Linked DNA regions of Homo sapiens: region 1 is linked to region 2. The links come from fine-mapping of genetic effects on gene expression. A gene starts in region 2. The other region holds a variant in brackets. All regions are shown on one strand. Distances are between the middles of the regions. Region 1 overlaps TRIT1 (tRNA isopentenyltransferase 1). Region 2 holds the start of MYCL (MYCL proto-oncogene, bHLH transcription factor).

Region 1 (2,907 bases), 65 kb after region 2:
AGATTGAGGCTTCAGTGAAACATGATCATGCCACTGCATTCCAGCCTGGGTGGCAGAGCAAGACCATGTTGCTCAAAAAGAAAATAAAACTAACAACCCCCTCCCCCAAACACACATGCATGAAATCAACCTTTTATGAATGCAGTGACTTGTCAATATCCCTAGCACCTAGACACAGTCAAATATTTGTTGAATCAATTGCATGAAAGCATAAAAACTAAGTAGGTCTCTACATAAGTGATCTGCTTCAATTGTTAAATACTTTTTAACCAGGATGAAGAAATTTTGGGATAGCCACCAGCAGGAATTTCTGTATTTGATTATCACCTACTTGGGCAGTTAAGGCTGTTTTCTAAAATGATGGCTAACTGGTTATTTGTAAAGCTACTCTGAATGCTTACAAAGGAAGCTGCATGTTTGTATTAGTTCAGGTAAAAGGCTAAGTTGCTATAACAAAGAGACTCAACAATACAGTGGCTTAAAGAACAAAGAAGTTTATTCTTTCTCACGTAACAGCTCTGAAGGGAATTAACCTGTCTGAAGTGAGTGATCCAGGTCATTGGGGCAGCTGTGCACCAAATGGTCATTCAGGGACACAGATTCCTCGTATCATGTTGCTTCTCCATCCTCTGGAGCATTGTCCTCATCTGCTGCATGCTTGAAGCTGGGTCATCACTGGTCCTAGCTGATGGGAAGGGGAAAAGGAACAGGGAGGAGGTAGACCCGCTGCCTCAAGGCCTGGACCCTGCAGTGGCACGGATACTTCTGCCTACATTCTCACTTTCCATTGGCAATGACTTAGCCCGATGGCCACACCTACCTGCCAGGAAGGCTGAGAAACGTAGTCAAGCCATGTGCCAAGAAGGAATGGGAGGACAGGTTTTGGTGGGCAACTTACAGTCACCACTAGATTGGTATCATGGAAGGAGCACTCAATTCCAGGCTCATTTAACTAATTAATTTAACTCAGTTTGCTAGGGGCAAATCTATTTCTCCATCTGTGAAATTAGTGAGTTGTATTGAGCTGACCTCTGAAATATTTCAAAAAGTAAAGCTTGAGAAAATCCTGGCTGGTAGGACTTTAAGATGAGAATAAGAAAGCATTATAGGGAATGGGAGACTGTATAAAC[A/C]TCAGGGCCAGTGGCTCATACTGTAAAGATGGTGGGGAGGAAAGATGGAAGGTGTTTTGGTGGCATTGTTGAATAACTGAACTAATGACTTAACTGCCTACTTTCAGACTTTATGTGGCAGGGAGGGGACAGGGGGAGAAAGAAACCACTATTTGTATTTGCAGCTGAACACTTTACTTTCTAATATACTATCTGTGTGATCTTGGGAATATTGCTTAAAAGCCTGTTTCCTCATGTATAAAATGAAGTTATCTGTATTCCACGGGACATGGTAAGGATTAAGTGAGGTCCTGTTGTAAATAGCATAGTGTTTTGGCACTGTAGTGCCCAGTAAATGGTAAGTACAAATTGGATTTATTTGCTTCATTGGGGAAAAATTGTTAATGCTATTAAAATGTTGGTTTATGATATGGTATCATTTCTTGGAAGTTATCAGGGCAAGCTCTGACTTAAGACTGACTAGTTTGGTGGACTATAGTACTAATGGCCAGAAACGGTGCCTCGGGCTTCAGCTGCCACCCACCTAGGCTTCAGCTGTTAAGTTTTGTTTGTTTCAATGATATGATTTCTTCCATGGGTCAGCTCATTTGCTTGAACTGTTTTCTTCCCTTGAAATGTCCTTTCCCCTGCTCTTTACCTAGTGAACTCCTGCACATCCTTCAAGGCCCAGATCTGATGTCCTCTCCTTAGAAAAAGCTTCTTTGACTCTAGGGAGACTTAATTTCTCCTCCTAGCAGTTAATACGTAATAGTGTTAACATTAGCTGGTGCTTAGGTAGTCCTATGAGCTAGGCACTGCTTTAAGCACTTTTACACATATTAACTCATTTAATCCTCACAAAGCCCTATGAGGTAGTTTTGTCATTGTTCTTGTTGTCTCTGTCTTACAACTGAGGAAACTGAGTAGAGCAGTTAGGTGACTTTCCCAAGGGCAAGCTGGGATTTGAAAATAGGTGGGTGGCTCCAGAGTCTGTTCTGGCTCATTATTTTGCCACAGCTCATAGCACCTGTTATTTATCTCTTGTTCCCACTGGAAAGTAAATTCTGCCAGGATCTGAGTACTATTTTAAGATGATTGTGGAACATATAGTGGGCACCCAATGTATATCGAGGCTAATTTCTGCAAGACACACCTCCCTGTCTAAACGTAGACATGGCTTCTCTGTGTTGAGTGCTTCTGTGTGTCAGGCATTATATCAAGCACATGCATACGTTATAATGATTCCTTAAAACAAACGGACAAGATAATCTGTTATCACCATTTTATAAACACAGCTTAATGAACAGTGGTTGGCACAGAGTAAACATGCAAATATTTGCCGAGTAGCAGAGATAAAGCTTGGTGAGGGCAGCGATGTTTGTCTGTTGTTCACTGCTTTATCCCTGGCATCTACAAGGGCCTGCTGCTTAAAAGCACTTATTTGTGTTTTTGTTTTTTTACTTGAAGTCAGCCTTTTATTTTTATCCAGATTTATTGAGATATAATCGACAGATAAAATTATATATATTTAAACTATATAAAGTGATTTTATATATGTGTATATATGTATGTGTGTATCTATCTATCTATCTATCTATCTATCTGTCTATCCATCTATCTATCTATACCACCATCAAGTTAGTTAACACATCCCATAAACATTTGTTGAGCTAGGATTTGAAGCCAGTTTGGGCTGACTCCAAACTCATACTCTAACCACAACCCTCTACTTCTGCAAGGGCATTTCTTTAGGGTTTTTGAATGTACAAATTTAGGGTTTTTGAATGTACAAATTATT
Region 2 (2,855 bases):
TCCGTTTAGCACAAAGCAGGGCACACAAGCTGTCTCAGTGAAATCTGGTTAGCTGAGTCCCTCAGTAAGTCAGTTAGTTCACAAATGTCTGCCAGAAGCTGTTCTAGGTGCAGAAATCACAAAGCAAGTAGGAGCAGGTTTCTGCCTTCAAGATGTCCCACATGCAGCACAGACCCAACGTATCTAAAACGGAAGGCTGTCATTTTCCCTGCCTTCCCAACCCATATAACAACACACATCCGTGTCCCATGCTCCAACCACACTGAATTGCTTGCCCTTCTCACTTCCGTCTGCCAACAGTGAGTAGTTTGGTGTTCTTAGACCACAGGGGTGGGAGGGAAAGAGAGAGACAGCAGACAATCAGGCTGGGGTAGACAGACACCAGACCTTGATGCCAGGTGGAGGAATCTAGATGTATTGGCTGCTGTCCCAAGTTACTCTCCTCTGGCCTAAATCTCAGACTGGCCGTATAGTTTAATTTTTTCTCTTCCACCAAAGGTCATCTGTGTAGAAGATGACACAAAGGGGGACCCAGCACGGTGACCCGTGCCTGTAATCCCTGCACTTTCGGAGGCTAAGGAGGGAGGATCATTTGAGCCCAGGAGTTCGAGGCTGCAGCGAGTCATGATCGAGCCACTGCACTCCAGCCTTGACGCTGAGTGAGACCCTGTCTCTTAACAAAATATATTTAAAATTTAAAAAGAAGATTATACAAAGGGGTTATCTATCATCTTGGCCAGCAATGCAGGGCAAAACTTGAAACAACTTGGTCCTGCAGTATTTTCCAGATGCCAAATCCTCATTCTCTACTGTACAGCTCCTACAGTGTTTTGTGTGAGATGAGAGGGAGCATGGCGGGTCTCAGCTGGCTTTGCCCTGGGAAAAATTCCTCATTTCTGCACCGCCTCCCCAAAGCGGGGGCTAAGCCAGCGCCGTCTGCCTCTCCACCTAGACCAGACCCCTTCCCTAGATGCTCTTATTTCCCTGAAGCCTCACAACAACCCTGTGAGGTAAGCATTACCATCCCTTCATTTTACAGATGAAACTGAAGCTCAGGAAGGTTACGTTTCGGGCTCTAAATCCCGGAATCTTCGCTTCGATGCCATCCAGGCTTGGGCCACTGAGCTCAAGAAACGGGCCGACGGGTGACCAGACGGACGCCGGGACCAGCCCAAGTTCAGGGCTGAGGGCCGCCAGGTGGCGCGTTTCCCTCCCCCTACCCCTCGCGGCGGCTCGGGCGCACCTGAACCCAGCGGGGTGCGCCGGGGAAAGTAGGCGCGCAGGGTGGGGCGGGGAGTAGCCCTAATTCCCCAGCTCGGAGTGGGCAAGGAGCACGGTTTAGCTCAGCCGGCTGGCACCGCCAAGCGGCCGCCGGGCCGCATCAGCCCTCCTCCTGTTTGCGCTCCCCAGCGTGCAATTTATTTGGGGGGCTACCGGGGATTGAACGGAGCGGGCGAGCGCTGCCAGGAGGTGGGGCCGGCCCCACCTGTCGACTGCCCGTAGTAGGCAGGGAGAGGGCGGGGTTTGTCCCATAGGGCCCGCCCCCCAGTCCCTGGGTCCCGGGCGCGCGACGAGATATAAGGCAGTCAGGAAACAATGCGCCTGCAGCTCGCGCTCCCGCGCCGATCCCGAGAGCGTCCGGGCCGCCGTGCGCGAGCGAGGGAGGGCGCGCGCGCGGGGGGGGCGCGCTTGTGAGTGCGGGCCGCGCTCTCGGCGGCGCGCATGTGCGTGTGTGCTGGCTGCCGGGCTGCCCCGAGCCGGCGGGGAGCCGGTCCGCTCCAGGTGGCGGGCGGCTGGAGCGAGGTGAGGCTGCGGGTGGCCAGGGCACGGGCGCGGGTCCCGCGGTGCGGGCTGGCTGCAGGCTGCCTTCTGGGCACGGCGCGCCCCCGCCCGGCCCCGCCGGGCCCTGGGAGCTGCGCTCCGGGCGGCGCTGGCAAAGTTTGCTTTGAACTCGCTGCCCACAGTCGGGTCCGCGCGCTGCGATTGGCTTCCCCTACCACTCTGACCCGGGGCCCGGCTTCCCGGGACGCGAGGACTGGGCGCAGGCTGCAAGCTGGTGGGGTTGGGGAGGAACGAGAGCCCGGCAGCCGACTGTGCCGAGGGACCCGGGGACACCTCCTTCGCCCGGCCGGCACCCGGTCAGCACGTCCCCCCTTCCCTCCCGCAGGGAGCGGACATGGACTACGACTCGTACCAGCACTATTTCTACGACTATGACTGCGGGGAGGATTTCTACCGCTCCACGGCGCCCAGCGAGGACATCTGGAAGAAATTCGAGCTGGTGCCATCGCCCCCCACGTCGCCGCCCTGGGGCTTGGGTCCCGGCGCAGGGGACCCGGCCCCCGGGATTGGTCCCCCGGAGCCGTGGCCCGGAGGGTGCACCGGAGACGAAGCGGAATCCCGGGGCCACTCGAAAGGCTGGGGCAGGAACTACGCCTCCATCATACGCCGTGACTGCATGTGGAGCGGCTTCTCGGCCCGGGAACGGCTGGAGAGAGCTGTGAGCGACCGGCTCGCTCCTGGCGCGCCCCGGGGGAACCCGCCCAAGGCGTCCGCCGCCCCGGACTGCACTCCCAGCCTCGAAGCCGGCAACCCGGCGCCCGCCGCCCCCTGTCCGCTGGGCGAACCCAAGACCCAGGCCTGCTCCGGGTCCGAGAGCCCAAGCGACTCGGGTAAGGACCTCCCCGAGCCATCCAAGAGGGGGCCACCCCATGGGTGGCCAAAGCTCTGCCCCTGCCTGAGGTCAGGCATTGGCTCTTCTCAAGCTCTTGGGCCATCTCCGCCTCTCTTTGGCTGAAGCTGCCCGTGTAGTCCCCAACCGTGTCTGTCTGGCACGTGGGTGTGTTGGTAAACAG

What was found.
Region 1: its variant is fine-mapped to the expression of MYCL in whole blood (INTERVAL, PIP 0.97).

What each region holds. Positions count from the first base shown.
Region 1 is chr1:39,835,655-39,838,561 of GRCh38, reverse strand. TRIT1 (tRNA isopentenyltransferase 1) reads left to right here. Exons shown (of 11, transcript NM_017646.6): 11 at 1-452. LOC105378667 (a long non-coding RNA gene) reads right to left here. Exons shown (of 4, transcript XR_947221.3): 4 at 607-685. Among named protein-coding and RNA genes, the nearest start is that of LINC02811, 20 kb to the right of the region's middle. RefSeq lists a silencer at 1,459-1,659. The variant A/C (reference allele first, on the strand shown) is at 1,131.
Region 2 is chr1:39,900,756-39,903,610 of GRCh38, reverse strand. It overlaps MYCL (MYCL proto-oncogene, bHLH transcription factor), which reads left to right and starts at 1,694. Exons shown (of 2, transcript NM_001033081.3): 1 at 1,694-2,672. The coding sequence starts at 2,177. RefSeq lists silencers at 1,121-1,330, 1,591-1,910, 2,321-2,440.